2 separate regions of the Homo sapiens genome follow, and region 2 is linked to region 1. The links come from fine-mapping of genetic effects on gene expression. Tissue or cell type: prefrontal cortex. Region 1 holds a variant in brackets; the other region holds the start of a gene. All regions are shown on one strand. Distances are between the middles of the regions.

What was found. PIP is the estimated chance that this variant, and not a neighbour inherited with it, causes the effect.
Region 2: RPL37A-DT starts here. The variant in region 1 is fine-mapped to the expression of RPL37A-DT in prefrontal cortex (BrainSeq, PIP 0.91).

The regions. Positions count from the first base shown.
Region 1 is chr2:216,315,930-216,323,929 of GRCh38, reverse strand. All of the region lies in intron 1 of MARCHF4 (membrane associated ring-CH-type finger 4), which reads left to right. It overlaps MARCHF4-AS1 (MARCHF4 antisense RNA 1), which reads right to left. Exons shown (of 3, transcript XR_001739877.2): 2 at 5,782-5,852; 3 at 1-2,361. Among named protein-coding and RNA genes, the nearest start is that of MARCHF4-AS1, 17 kb to the right of the region's middle. RefSeq lists enhancers at 3,759-4,490, 4,491-5,222, 7,243-8,000. The variant GAAAGA/A (reference allele first, on the strand shown) is at 3,255.
Region 2 is chr2:216,494,103-216,502,375 of GRCh38, reverse strand. RPL37A-DT (RPL37A divergent transcript) reads left to right here and starts at 3,624. Exons shown (of 4, transcript NR_183317.1): 1 at 3,624-3,769. It overlaps RPL37A (ribosomal protein L37a), which reads right to left and starts at 3,532. Exons shown (of 4, transcript NM_000998.5): 1 at 3,499-3,532; 2 at 2,978-3,106; 3 at 2,345-2,427; 4 at 1-1,035. The coding sequence starts at 3,501. The coding sequence ends at 972. RefSeq lists enhancers at 3,456-3,845, 4,026-4,115 and a silencer at 6,218-6,287.

The DNA.
Region 1 (8,000 bases):
GAATGTGTTTGCTCTTGCTTTTCTAGTTCTTTTAATTGTGATGTTAGGGTGTCAATTTTAGATCTTTCCTGCTTTCTCTTGTGGGCATTTAGTGCTATAAATTTCCTTCTACACACTGCTTTGAATGCGTCCCAGAGTTTCTGGTATGTTGTGTCTTTGTTCTCGTTGGTTTCAAAGAACATCTTTATTTCTGCCTTTATTTCATTATGTACCCAGTAGTCATTCAGGAGCAGGTTGTTCAGTTTCCATGTAGTTGAGTGGTTTTGAGTGAGTTTCTTAATCCTGAGTTCTAGTTTGATTGCACTGTGGTCTGAGAGATAGTTTGTTATAATTTGTGTTCTTTTACATTTGCTGAGGAGTGCTTTACTTCCCAGTATGTGGTCAATTTTGGAATAGGTGTGGTGTGATGCTGAAAAAAATGTATATTCTGTTGATTTGGGGTGGAGAGTTCTGTAGATGTCTATTAGGTCTGCTTGGCGCAGAGCTGAGTTCAATTCCTGGGTATCCTTGTTGACTTTCTGTCTCGTTGATCTGTCTAATGTTGACAGTGCAGTAGATACTATTATTATCTCCATTTTACCAAGTGCTGAAACTGAAATTCAGGGTGATAAAATTACATACAAACCTCTCCAACTGGTATCTGGAAGAGCCATATCTTGCATTTCAGATTGAAGGACTCCAGGGCCCAGATTCTTACCCACTCATTTGGATGATTGCAAAAAAGGAGAAAATTAATTACTATAAGCTTAAGGAGGTTGAGAGAATGTAAATATAACTTACTAGGGTATCAGTTTGAACATCTAATGAGGAACACACTTTGCTTATTCAATATTAGGTACACTCATTCAGAAAACCCAAGCCTCTCAGAGAATTACCATTGGATTCTTATGGGCAAGGTGATCAAACTCCATACAAGAGGAAAAAGGTTCTTCTGAGGCATTAGTAGCTTCTTTCCAAGAAAAATTACAACTTTCTTGGCCTTAATAGTAAATAGCTTTGTTTTCTAACAGGACATCTTATGGTATAATGTTTCCATGTTCAACAAAATGCACTCTGACCCACCCAGCTGGGTCACCTGTGTATCTTGAGACCGGTTCTTTTTTTTGAGACGGAGTCTCGCTCTGTCGCCCAGGTGACAGTAGTGCAATGGCAGGATCTTGGCTCACTGCAACCTCCACCTTCTGGGTTCAAATTATTCTCCCACCTCAGCCTCCCTAGTAGCTGGGACTACAGGCACCCACCACCGCACCCGGCTAATTTTTGTATTTTTAGTAGAGATGGGGTTTCGCCATGTTGGCCAGGCTGGTTTCGAACTCCTGATCTCAGGTGATCCGCCTGCCTCGGCCTCCCAAAGTGTTGAGATTACAGGCGTGAGCCACCGTGCCTGGCCGAGACCAGTTCTTAATCCGATAATCTGATGACTGCTAAGACCCTCCACAGCAAAAGTGTGTATGCACACATACATGCAAAATAATACTGTAATTTCAGGAGGTTCACAGGTCCCCTGAAGGTCACTGATGGACCCCCTAGTTAACAACATTTGCTATAAACCAGAATTGGGCCAGATTCCAGGGATAACCAAGCCAGCCTTCAAATTCTCTGATTATTCCAGGCAACTTATCACCAGTGGGCCAATCGTCTGGTTTTAATTTTCTTCTCTCCTAATGACTTGAGGTCCACCTCTTGCTTTTTCATTATCTCCTGGTAAGTTGGTCCTGCTAAACACATTTTAGGAGATGCTGCCTTTGTTGGTTCTCATTCTTGTTACCCACCTTGGACTTCTGTAGACATCTTTGGCAATTCAGTTATTTACCAGGACACACACACACACACATCCCCTTAAGTATACCTCATTGTGCACAATGCTTGCGGTCAGTTTAGTCCTCATTTCACAGCCATTTCAGTCACAGCAACTTGTAAAACAAAGGTCTATTCACAGGTCCACCATGTGTGGATGTTCAGGTTGTTCATTGGAGAAGAGTAGCTGGTTTGGGTTGGAGAAGCTAGTCACTGCAATAGAAATTGAGCCCATGCTCTCCTCCTCAAGCAAGATGCCCAAGGCTGATTCTTCCTGGAGGAATGGGCTTCTTTTTCTGAGTCATACAAATGCAGTATATGGGACAACAGCACTCCCGCCTGATTAGTAGTATCACCAAGAAGTCCAGAAGACATATTGGAAGATAAAATACCAATATCCCTATTCTGATTTTGTATCACCAGTCACCAGTCACTTTGTCTCTTCTTTCTTTTCAATGAAAGTGTTCCCAGGGCTACATTTGCTTGGAAGAAGGAGACCTGAAGGATCCATTGCCTGTATTGCCCATCTCCATTTAACAAGATTCAGGTTTCCGCTATGGCAAGCTGAGAGGGAGAAAGGACAGAATGGGTGGATTATTCCATTAGCATTTTCCCTCCCCTCTTTGCCAACTCAGTTCCTAGCCATCATTCATATCTTGGCTCAAGCATCATTCCTTCAAGGACCGACCAATCCCCTCTTACAGCACCACATTTCTGTCTTGCATTGAACTTAACCACCATTGCAATTTCATGTTATTTTAGATATTATGGATATACATATGTTAATTGTATATATATCCATACACCTCAAAATGATGAGCTTCATGAGAGTGGGGGCCATTCTATTTGTATTTACCATTGCATTCCTATTGCCTGGCACATAGTCGGTATCTAATTTAATATTTGTTTGACTGAATGAATGGATGGGAGGTAATTAGTCCAGATTGTGAGAAGCCCTGGAGTCTTGACTGAAGAGTTAAGAGTTTCCTACAGACAGTAGGAAGCCTATTTTCTGGGCTAAAAGAACTTCTTGTCTCGCTCCAAAGTTCTAGTTTTGAACTGTGTATTATAGCTCTGGCATTCCAACATCATTATTCTTCACTCTTACTCAACTTCAGAGAAATTTTGCAAAATCTTACTTAAAGAAAAAGAGGCATCTGGGTGCGGTGGCTCTGCTTGTAATCCCAGCACTTTGGGAGGCCGAGGCAGGTGTATCACGAGGTCAGGAGTTCGAGACCAGACTGACCAACATGGTGAAACCCCGTCTCTACTAAAAATACAAAAAAAAAAAAAAAAAAGCCAGGCATGGTAGTGCATGCCTGTAATCCCAGCTACTCAGGAGGCTGAGGCAGGAGAATCATTTGAACCTGGGAGGCAGAGGTTGCAGTGAGCCGAGATCGCGCCATTGCACTCCAGCCTGGGTGACAGAGTGGGACTCCATCTCAAAAAAAAAAAAA[GAAAGA/A]AAGAAAGAAAGAAAGAAAGAAAGAAAGAAAGAAAGAAAGAAAGAAAGAAAGAAAGAAAGAAAAAGAGGCTATAGCTCTACAACCTTATCTGCTATGAGAGGCTGCATAATAGGGTAGTGGCTTAAAACATGGGCCTTGGAATTGGGTAGACATTGGTTTTAAACCTGGGTTGCCCATTTGCTGGCTGTGTGATTTTAAGTAAATGATTTCATGCCTCAAAGCCTCAGTTGCTTCAATCTGTAAATGGGGATAATAATATCTTCCCCAAAGGATTGAATGAGTTAAGCAATGTGAAATGCTTATTAGAGAACCTGGCCTTTAGTAAGGACTCAATCACTGGAAGTGTTTATTATTCACTAAACTGGATCCTCATAAGAGAGGCAGGGAATAAAGCACCCATAGGAACTGGGTCAAAAAGAGTTAATACATGGCATCCTTCTTTCTTATTTGCTTCTCAGAAAATATGGAAGGAGTAATACCTTAACAGCTGATATAGTTTACGGGTTTGTTTAATAATGAGTCCCTTATGTTCCCTAAATATATCTTTGTGTCTTACAGTAATCTTAGTTCTGTGGCAGATTTTTTACTTTCCCTTTAACACCACCCATCACACTGGGGAGAGGAAGAAACACTCAACCAAGGCATTGACTAATGATTCAGCTTCTAAACTCACAGAAACATCCAGATTGGAGGAGCATGTCAAGGACCAGCCAGGCAGCAAGTGAAGGCTCTGGTGAGGAATGTGGCTTTCTAGATGACAATGGCAAGTGCTGTTTGTGAGGGCAGGCCAAGCAGTTGGGGGTATTAGTTCTATCATCCTGAGAGTAGTGAGCCTGGGAAGTTTGGCATCTCAGTCCTTGTGGAAGGAGGCAGTTTGAGTGACGGGCTGGGGATGTAAATCCCAGCATCTAGTGTAGATTTCCTTATTCAATCCTGTTTCTCCCATTACCAGTTTCAGCAGAAAATCCAGAGCCTGAAGTCAAAGAAGAGGCTTATTATGTTTCCCAAGAGACCAATAAAAGTTTCTATAGCTTCTGTGCTCAAAATCATAGTATTTCTTTAATTATCAAACTCTCTATAGGGCATGAATAATTTGAAAATTGCAAAACTCTAAGAATGAGGTAAAGAAATTAGGATTATATTGACTTGCTTCAGGTAGGGCCTGGATAGTTTCTTATTCTCTTGCTCTAGACAGGACATGTAACCTGTCTCAAGAGGTTCATTTCATTGATTCCACGAGCATTTATGAGTGTCTGCCGTGCACTGGGTACAATTCCAAACACTGGGGATACAGAAGCACCCCCTGTCCATTGCCCCTGTGGTGGTAGATTTGTGTTTGTTTTGTTTTGTTTTGTTTTGTTTTAGATGGAATCTCACTCTGTTGCCCAGGCTGGAATGCAGTGGCACGATTTCGGCTCACTGCAATCTCTGCTTCTTGGGTTTAAGCGATTCTCCTGCCTCATCCTCCCAAATAGCTGGGATTACAGGCACCCGCCACCACACTGGGCTAATTTTTGTATTTTTAGTAGAAACAGGGTTTCACCGTGTTGGCCAGGCTGGTTTTGAACTCCTGACCTCAAGTGATCCGCCTGCCTCAGCCCCGCAAAGTGCCGGCATTACAGATGTGAGCCACCGCACCCGGCAGGTAGATTTGTTTTAAGGTAAATATATTTCATATTCCAGAATTATTTCAGCAATCACAAATTCTTTTCTTTTTTGAAAAAAGAAAAGAAAATCCATAATCCTACCTCCCCTACATAGACTGCTTTCATTTTTGTGTGTCCCTTTTCTGAAATCTGTGTCTTTAAAATCCCCTAAAGAAGTAGCTTTGATGATTTTTTCTTAGTCACATCATTAAAGTTTGGGGGTGAGGAAAATCTCTTTAGCTGTAAGCGCTTTCTGTGTGTTAACCCAAAGTCCCATCATGACAGCAAGGCCCTGGGCAGTGGAGCCCCTGGCACCTCTCTGATTTCATTTCCTGCCATTCTCATTCACGGCAGCCTCTTTTCTCACATCAGCCTGCTCCTACCTCAGGGCCTGTGAACTTGCCCTCCTCCCTGTCTGGTCTTCCCTCTGATATTCACACAGTTCACTCCCTCACTTCCTTCCAGTCTCTGCTCAAATTTCATCACCTAAGGCTTTCCCTGAACCCCTCTGGTACTTTCCATTGCTCTCCATCCCTTTATTGAGATTTAATTATCTTCATAGCACTTATGACCCCCTCCCATATATATTTTGAAATTACCTGTTTATTAAAGTCTATCTTGTCCTGCTGGAATGAGTCCCCTGAGAGCAAGGGCTTTGTTTGATTTGTTCACTGCTACATCCCCGTCCCCTACAGCAGTTGGCTGGCCTGGGAGGGGCGTTCGTTTGCCCGCTTAAGGATGCTTTCTGCTTCGGCTCCCTTTCCCTTACATTTTGCTCAACAGAGGTGGTGAGGAACTGCCTGCTTCCCTTGCTGTAACATTCATTTAAGGATGACCTGTGCCAAGGTAAGGAAAACTTAGATCGAGGCACTAACCTGCAGAACCTTGAGAGTAAAGACATGAAGGCAACTCTGTTTTCTGCTGGTGACTTGAATCGAGCTTCCTGCTGTAAGAAGGAAAGATTCTGCAATGAGCAACATGCTTTCATTTCCACAGCTTGTATCTAAGATCAGCCTCGGAAGCGCTGGTTGCATTTGCTTGGAAGAACTCTTGTTTTCCTAGTAATCTTCACACCTACTCCCTTTACCTTCTCAGTGTCAGACAGCTGGCACAATGGCTGAGATCTTTCTATTGTCCTCCATCAGCACAAACTGTCCTGGAATTGCAGAATTCTCTGATAGTCAATGTGTCCACTGTTTACTCTTCCATTCATATCCTTCACGCCATCACCACACGACCCGGTCATATGCTTTCTCTACTTTACCCGCTTATAGAGAGGTGTAAAAAAAGCTTGCTTTAAAAGGATTAGGGGCTGGGCATGGTGGCTCATGCCTGTAATCCCAGCACTTTGGGAGGCCAAGGGGGGTGGATCACTTGAGGTCAGGAGTTCGAGACCAGTGTGGCCAACATGGCGAAACCCCATCTCTACTAAAAATACAAAAATTAGCCAGGCGTTGTGGCTTGTACCTGTAATCTCAGCTACTTGAGAGGCTGAGACATGAGATCACTTGAACCCAGGAGGTGGAAGGTTGCAGTGAGCCAAGATCACACCACTGCACTCCAGCCTGGGCGACAGAGTGAGACCCTGTTTCTAAAAAAAAACAAAAAAGGATTAGGAAGCTGATGTTGCATGTGGGCACCCAAATTGGCTCCTCATGGGAGGAGAGGGGGTTTAGTTGGATTTAATGTTTTAGAGCCCAACCTTCCTGCTGCATTTCCCTGACAAGATATGATAAAAGCTAAATACACATAAAAATATTCCCATTACCCCAGAAACTTCTATGAGATAAGAAAATAACACTACCAACCAATGGCTCTGCCATAAGATAATTGTCCAGCAATGTATCACTGGAGAGCAGGTCCTCTATAAAGACGCCAATGAAAGAGTATGGCTTTGGGGGGTGGGGGCACTCATATCAGGCTTGGACTTGACAGGTTCAGAAGCCCCTTCCAGACCAGCTTGGGCTGAAGAGGTTAGAAGGTTGGAGAAGGTTGGAGAGTGCTCATCCTTTCCCTCCCTTGCAGGCAGTCCCCCTCTCCCACCTCATCCCATGCTGGTCATGCTTAGATTACTCAGACGTCCGTAGCCACTCCTGTTGAGCAAAATGTAAGGAATTCCCCCTTGGAGTCCTCTGATGTGCCCAGTGACTAGTCTCTCCTCATCCCTTATGCCAGGATTCTCAAAGTAAAGTGCACAGATCACCTGCTTCTCAATGACCTGGGGTACCTTTTTCAAAATGCAGATTTCTGGACAACACCTTGGACCTGCAGAATCAGAAGTTCTGGGGGTGGGGCAAGAAGTACATAGCAATTTAGGAACTTCTGTCTCAGTGTTCAGTTTTTACTTAGTACCTTGACACTACTCTTAGTTCCTGGCTCTACTGGTATAATTTTGGGATTTGGGGGTGTATCTATTTTTTTGTGCCTCAGTTCTTCTGACCCTGTCCCCGCACCCCTCTCCCGCCCCCCATTTCCCAGGACTGTGGACCTATTTCATTTCTTCAAGAATGAAATTTCCTTCTTCCACTATGCAATACCCCGTTCTAGAAATTTGCCTTTCATCTCTTTCCTTGAATCAGAGAGCTGCCCTGTTTTTGCAAGATTTTGCAGTCCTCAGCAATTTTCCCACATGTTCAAGAGGGACTAGGAGGAAGATAGGGCCTCCGTTTTAGAAAGGGGCGTGAGCAGGCAGGGACCCCACAGCAGGAAGCACAATTAAGAATGTTCTCAGCAGGAAGGCTGCTCTCCGGGAAGCACAGAGAGCTATCAGGACAAGTGACCTTTCTAATCATGCCTGACATTTCACAGCCTCGAAGGCGGAAGGACTGCCCTTATTCCGGAGGCGCAGTGTCGCGCTGTGTCACCCCCAGACACCTGCGTCTGAGCTGTGGTGACTCGGCCTCCAACCAGGCGATGAATCAGAGCAGCAAAGGGCTTTGTTTCCCTGGGAAAAGAGAAAACATTGAGCAGAGGGCTTATGTGGATGGTGACTGTGTCTAAACCAGGGATAGAAAGACCCTGATGGAGGATGTCGCCTCCCTTAGGGATTAGCCCTGCTCTGGAGGGCTCCAGTGATGCAGATCAGACAGACCTG
Region 2 (8,273 bases), 180 kb before region 1:
GCAGTATATGTATATCCTTTAGTATATCTTTTACCTTCAGAAACTTTTTTTTGGAGACAGAGTGTTGTCCTGGCTAAATAAAGTGCAGTGGCACGATCCTGGCCCACTGCAACCTCCGCCTCGTAGGTTCAAGTGATTCTTGTGCCTGAGCCTCCAAAGTAGCTGGGATTACAGGCATGTGCCACCATACCAAGCTATTTTTTGTATTTTTCGTCGAGACGGGTTTTTGCTATGTTGGCCACACTGGTCTCAATCTCCTGGCCTCAAGTAATCCACCTGCCTCAGCCACCCAAAGTGCTGGGATTTCAGGCGTGAGTCACCGCACCCAGCCTAGACACATTATAAAAATATTAAATGCAAGGCTGGGCGTGGTGGCTCACACCTGTAATCCCAGCACTCTGGAAGGCCAAGGCAGGTGGATCGCTTGAGGTCAGTTCAAGAACAGCCTGGCCAATGTGGTGAAAACTCCATCTCTACTCAAAATACAAAAATTAGCCAGGTATGGTGGTGCGTGCCTGTAATCCCAGCTACTCAGGAGGCTGAGGCAGGAGAATCGCTTGAACCTAAGAAGTGGAGGTTGAAGTGGGCCAAGACTGGTATACTGCACTCCAGCCTGGGTAACAGAGACTCCGCCTCAAAAACAAACAAAAAAACTAACTGTAATTTAAAAACTAAAGTTTACAGTTGGCTCCAATGTATCTCAAAGTCAAACTGGCAGGAGCAGACTTATAAAAAGCTAACACTCATATCTAACTTGGAAGACTTATATTCTTATGCTGCATTTTACCATTTGACTACTAAAAAAGACACTGAATTACAATAATCCATCTTGGCATGCTTTTCCAATACAACAGTATTTACACAATGCAAACATCAGAATGTCTAATAAAGTTAACAAGCCAAGGCAATTTTGTTACATAAATTAACCCATTTATTATAGGCCAGTGATGTCTCAAAGAGTAGAGGAGCGTCTACTGGTCTTTCAACTCCTTCAGTCTTCTGATGGCGGACTTTACCGTGACAGCGGAAGTGGTACTGGAAAGAAAGATTCAGTTTCCAACATAATTAAGCATGTTAACATAGAAAATGGCAAATAAGTAAATCTGCCTCGTTTTTGTGTTAAAGTCGCTTCCCAAATTTTCCTAGAAAGAATTATACTGAGATAGACTGCTCTACCAATACTTTGCTGCAGTCAATCCAAAGATCTAACCAACATTAGATTACTCCTCGGAAATTAGTGGCTTCTAAACTACATGATGGCATCCTTTAAGAGCCATGCCTTCAGGATCTTGCAGAATTAGACATACAATCTCATGCATCTGATTTCTCAACCAGAGTTGCTTTTTTTTTTATAAGTAACTCAGTTGTGGACAAGCAAGCTTTAACTCCCCCTACCCCATCCCATGAAAAAGAAATGGTTCTAAGAGGCTGACCTAAACTTATTAAAAGGGAATGGACAGATTACAAGAAATGAATAAATTACAAGATGATACAGTGAGAACAATGATTAAGGAAATAAGAGCGGACACTAAAGTGCCTTTGGGAAAGACAGCTATTGAAATGACTACAAAAGTTTTACCATAAAATTCAGGAACTATACCTGAAAATCACCATCCTGTATTGTAAGTATATAAATAATTCACTTTCCTATCAGAACCAAGAAAGCACTCTAGTTCCCATTTTCCATTCTGCCCTAATAAAAACCCCCACAAGGAATATATATATATTTCAACATTTTCCACTGCTTCGGTTTAAGTTTAAATTGACTGAAACTTTAAAATCCAATTCTTTAATTACACTAGCCATATATGTGCTTAGTGTATTGGACAACACAGGTCTAGATGCTAGTTTGTAGTATAGTGTTTGTAGTATCGCCCTGTCAGGTGATACTGAGTTGCAGATTCACAAACCTGCAGCAGTCTAATACTGTTCAGAAAGACGAAACTGTGGTGGTCCTGATGGCCTCAAGTTCCAAATACAGTTTTGAACTAACTGACCCCTTCACCTATTTTTATCAAAACTTGCAGTGCAAATCAACGTTCAGTAGATTCAGCCCCACTAATGGACCTGCACAGTATCATGACAATGTTCACAACAATGTGCCCAGTGACCATCAAATTCTAAAGTAGTCTGTGAATTAGATTTCCGACTTCTATTTTGGTAGTTTTGTGTTTACTCTTTCAATAACTGAAAATAAACCACCACGGAAGAATCCTGAAAATACAAAGGCATCCTTATTCTCTCAGTCCTGAGAAAGTGTTAAAACTAGCCCATCCAGCAGCAACCTGGAATTTGGGCCTATGTGGTCCACACACTTCCAAATACCACAAGGAACTAGACTCACTTGTACGTCCAGGCACCGCCAGCCACTGTCTTCATGCAGGAACCACAGTGCCAGATCCCCACAGCTCGTCTCTTCATCTTGGTCTATAAAAGAGAACCAATTTTCACTATGAACCAAGTAAGTATTTTCTCTTACAAGCATCCAGAAGTCTAAATTTGGATTCACCTTATTGTCAGGGATGTGAAAGCCTCCCTTTCTCCCTCAAAAACAAAACAGGGATTGCTGTAATGCAGTATTTTGCACATAAACGTTCAAACCTTTATCAAACAAAAATCCCTCGCAGAACAAGTAGAATGGTATTAGATGCACAGACATCTTGGGAGTTGGTGCAGAAACATCAGTAGACAAAACTGATGGAATCATTTCCCACAAAGCAGGTTTGGCTTAGGCTGGGGGCACTCTGTCAAATGATTATTTTACCCATTAACGTTTAAGCGGTTTTCTTTAAATGAAAAACGTCTCACAAAATCTGAAGTTACCATCAACACTTTTATCTTAAAACTCATAATCAACGGTATGAGTAATTCCAACTGCCCACCAGCACACGGCTTATAAAATACCTTGAAGTCAGGCCTCACTTGGGTAAGAAACCTGCCCTCCCTCTCCTCTCACCAGAGACTTTGCCTTACTTACTTTGCCACAGAAAGAGCAAGTGTACTTGGCGTGCTGGCTGATTTCAATTTTCTTCACCATTTTCCGGAGGGAGGCCCCATAGCGGGTCCCGTATTTACCGACGATCCCGACTTTCTTGGTACGTTTGGCCTGTTTAGAGTGAAGGGAGAAACCAGTGATAGACCTGGAACCCAGGCAGGCCCTGGAGCCTCCACACACCGTTCCTCCACCTCACTGACGTGTGACCGACATGTGAATTACATATGACCTAGTTTTCCCTAAATTCAACCCAACGAAACCAGTGCCCAGGGCTGGCCGCGCGCTCCGAAGGCCCGGCGTTAACCCGGCTGGAGCGCGCCAGGCCCAGCCAAGGCGCCCCCGCCCCTCCGCCTTGGGGAGCTTCCGACAATGGTGTCTCCTGCAAAGGCATGGAGACAGGAGAGAACACGGGGTAAGGCAGGAGAGGAGATGGGTGCGGGAGAAGAAAACAAGGACAGATGCAGGCAGATAGAGTTCTAGGCCGCACAGAGACCCACACTCACCATGTCGCCGCGACCTAGGTCCGAGCCCAGAAAGGAAGAGACGCGGTGCGCAGGCGCGGTATTAGGCGGACGAGCGGAAGTGGCTGGTAGAGGCCTAGCTAGGAACTGAGCTCTATGGTTTGGGCGTTTTCAGGCGGCCTCCTGAGAAATGTTTGCAATTGTAAGGCGTCTCTCTCATCCAGGTTTACCCAGATTCGCAAACTATGGCGACAAACAACCATAGCAGAAGCATGTCCGGATTATTTCACATATATCACAAAATCCTGCAAAGGTACGAGTTCCTCCATTCGATGCACAGCACTTGGCTTGGAGAAGTGCATAAATCTTACATTTGTGGGGCCGGGCGCGGTGGCTCACGCTTGTGATTCTAACACTTTGGGAGGCGGGGTGGGTCAGGAGTTCGAGACCAGCCTGGCCAGCAGGGTGAAACCCCGTCTCTATTCCAAATCTCATTTATTTCCCCCTCTGCATTATGCTCTCTAAAAGTGGCTGACTGTGCAGGATGCTAGCGACAGTGGTGACTAAAATCCAAGGTTCCATTCCCAGAACAAGTTGCAGGCCAGCTGCAAACGATCATATAGCCACATTAAGAAGTTAGACAGTTTCAAACTGGTCAGAGTTCTGAAGGAAAGGACGATGGTTCTGCTCGCGACTAATTCAGAAGAGCCTGGTGTTTCCTGAGGAAAGTCTGAGATTGGAAGGCTGGGGAAAAGTTAACAGTCACCTTGGAGTTTTGTGTTCCAGCTGCTGCATCTCAGTGCGGATGGCCTGCCTTCCACTTCATTTCAGAACTCACTTCCATGGCCCCACACTAGGCTGTTAAGACAGCTTCCTGGTCCAGGCCTGAACCCTTAAACTCCAACATCTTACCCTTTACCCACCGTCAATTCTCTGTCCCTCCAGGTCTCTCAAAGGGGTCAGCAGGGAAGAATTGGATTTCTGGTTGAGGCCGGGGGTGGGGAGGGTGTGTTCTGGAACTAGACACATGATCTTCTTTCTTCACGTAGAACACACACACTAGGAAGTTTGGTTGCCTTTTTTCAGGGGATGGCTAATCCAGAGAATAAGAAGCTCAGAAAACTACTGGAATAAGAGTGTAAGAGAGAATCCATGATTAGAGGGCCAAGAAAGACCATGGGAGCTGAAAGGCATTGTGTGGCCCTGATTCCAATCAGAAGTCCGGTAACAAGTAGCTTCCGTTCCCAAAGCTTAATATTAACTGTCTCAAATAATTTTGCACCTGTTCACTTTTCCTCACAATTGTATTAAAGTCAACTTGCATACCTGGGCTGAGGTGGGAAGATCATTTGAGCCTGGGAGGTTGAGGCTGCAGTAAGCTGTCATCACGCCACTGCAGTCCAGCCTGGACAACAGAGTGAGACTCTGTCTCAAAAAATATATATGAATCAAATCAAATCAAAGCAACTTGCAAACAGCTATGTACTTCATATGGTTACAATTGTTGGAGGGTAACACATGGTAGGCACTGAGTATTTTATGTGGATGTTCTCATTTAATTTTCCATTATCCTTTATGATAGGAATGATTATTATCTTCATTACTAAGAAAAAGAGAGGAAGTCTCATGTAATGATTAGGAACTTAGAGGCTCTGGATTCAGTATGGGTTCAAAACAGAACTCTGCTATTTACCAGCTGTGGGACCTCTGACAAGTTATTATATACTTTTCTTTCTTTTTTCTTTTTCTTTTTTTTTTTTTTTTTTTTTTTTTTTTGAGACAGAGTCTCTCTTGGAAAAGATTCTTTGAGACCAGGAGTTCTAGGCAGCCTGGACAATATAGCGAGACCCCATCTCCACACACACAAAAAAATAATAGGCCAGGTATGGTGACACACATCTGTGGTTCTAGCTGCTCAAAAGGCTGAAACGTGAGGATTGCTTGAGCCCAGGAGTTCAGAGGTTACAGTGAGCTATGATCACACCATTTCACTCCAACCTGGACAACAGAGTGAGATCCTTTCTCAAAACAAAAACAAAAAAAGAAAGAAAAAAGAAACTCATCTCAGGGAAGTTAAGAAACTTGCTCAATGTCACACAGCAATTAGAACTCAAATCTGGTCTGTCTGATCCCAAAGTTAGTTCTCCTAATTGCTAGCTTGTACTACGCCAAATCATAATATTTAGTGCACTGAAAAAGCACATCAGAAAACATAGTTGAATTAAAATCAGGTCCCTGGCACTCAGTCTGGGCCAGGATCTGTAACTACCTTGTGGTTTGACTTTAGGTAAGCCACAGTCCCCACATGGAGAACCACCTCCCCACCTCCCAGCAGCCACCATCTTTATTTACAAGGAGCTGGACCAGGTGGTCTTCAAGGTCCTGTCCAGTTCTTCCCTCCTATGATTCCAGGAAGAGCTTCCAGACTTTGAGTGCCACTGGGGCAGTGACCCACCATGTGCTTTATGTCAGCACATCTTGCACAATTTTGTGGAATAAAGGTAGTTGTCTCTTTATCCTCCCCAATCTGTTATTCCAGCTCTGGCTGTGTAAATTCAAGGAGGAGAAAAAGCAAAAAGTAGTGGATAGTGGGAATAGTCAAATTGATTTTTGCATACATTTTTTGCATTTTCTAATTATCTTTTATAATGAGCATGTGTTTCTTTTATAATCTAAAAAAACTACCATTAAAAAAAAAACCCCAAACATCTCCAGTAACGACGAGTATACCTACTGCCCCAGATCTCAGGGTTTGTTTTTATTTGTTTTGTTTTGTTTTGAGACAGGGTCTTGCTCTGTTCCCCAGGCTGGTGTGCAGTGGTGTGATCACAGCTCACTATAGCCTTGACCTCCCCAGGCTCAAGCAGTCCTTTCACCACAGTCTCCTGAGTAGTGCCCAAATAATTTTTTTATTTTTGTAGAGACAGTCTTGCCATGTTGCCCAGGCTGGTCTGGAACTCCTGGGTTCAAGCAATCCTCCAGCCTCAGTCTTCCAGAGTGCTGGCATTTCAGGCATGAGCCACCATGCCCAGACCCCAGATCTTGGTTTATAATATCATTCTTTAATAAAAGGAACCAGGGCCCCTTAGAGAAGTGACTCATTCTAGGACTGCAGCAGGAAATATACAAGGCGAGCCTGCAGTATCTTGTGCCAGAAAGTAAGGAAATGTTCAGAAAACCCTACACTGATGGGGATATGTCAGAGAGACACAGGAGTCAACTGAAAGAACTCCGAATGGCCAAAGCTAGAAAATTTTGAGCAATAAATAAGGTAGTATTGATTTAACCCAAGTGTAAAATAAATATCCATGGGTCCATGTGGATATAAATAAATGATAGACTAAATAAATGAAAGACAAGAGGCAACTCTCTTTTGCAGAAGAATTTATTTTTTCTTTTTTTGAGACCGAGTCTTGCTCTGTCGCCCAGGCTGGAGTGCAGTGGTATGATCTGGGCGCACTGCAACCTCTGCCTCCTGGGTTCAAGCAAGTCTCCTGCCTCAGCCTGCTGAGCAGCTGGGACTACAGGCATGCACCACCACACCCAGCTAATTTTTGTATTTTTAGTAGAGACGGGGCTTCACCATAACGGCCAGGCTGGTCTTGAACTCCTGACCTCGTGATCCACCCTCCTCGACCTCCCAAAGTGCTGGGATTACAGGTGTGAGCCACTGCACCCGGCCAAGAAGAATTTCAAATAATTTATGTGGATATTCTGCTCTCAAGGAGGGTGAGCATAACTCCCCACTCCCTAAGTGTGGGCTGCACAGAATGACTTCCTTCCAAAGAGCACAGTATAGAAAGGGGAAAAAAGAGTAACTTTATAGCCAACACGACCTCAGCCAAGGTGATGAAGGTCAACATCAACAGTGATAATCTTGTTACTATGTCCCCTTGATGTGGAATGAAAATGGCACTTTGCCTCTGTGATCTTTCTCCCAAAACCCATAACCTCAGTCTAATCATGAGAACAATAGACAAATTCCAAAAGAGGGACATCCTTCAATATACCTGACCAGGGCTCCTTAAAACTGTCAAACCAGGAAAGCCTGAGTAACTGTCACAGCCAAGAGGAGCGTAAGGTGACATGATGACTAAATGTAACATGAAATCTTAGAACAAAAAAAAGACAATACGTTAAAAACTAGGAAGATCCGAATAAACTACAGACTTTAGGTCATAATAATGTATTAATCTTGCTTTATGAATTGTAACCAATTTACCATACTAATGTTAAGATGTTGCCGGGCGCGGTGGGTCACGCCTGTAATCCCAGCACTTTGAGAAGCTGAGGCAGGCAGATCTCGAGGTCAGGAGATTGAGACCATCCTGGCTAACACAGTGAAACCCTATCTCTACTAAAAATACAAAAAATTAGCCAGGCATGGTGGCACATGCCTATAATCCCAGCTACTCGGGAGGCTGAGGCAGGAGAATTGCTTGAACCTGGGAGGTGGAGGTGGAGTGAGTTGAGATCGTGCCACTGCACTCCAGCCTGGGCGACAGAGCAAGACTTCATCTCAAAAAAAAAAAAAAAAAAAAAAAAGTTAACAATAGAGAAAATTGGGTAAGGGTATACAAAAATACTCTCTCCTCAATTTTTTTATATAACTATAAAACTGTTCTACAAAATAAAGTCTATTTTAAAACAACCACCACCACCACCCAAGGAGGTCACCACAAGTCAATTCCATGAGGACAGGGCTTGTGTTGTTCACCTCTGCATCCCAGGACCTATACAAGAGCCTGACGTGTCAGCAGTAATGTCTGTTGAATGGGGGATTGTTACCTTGCATGGTATAATGGTGATGGGTATAT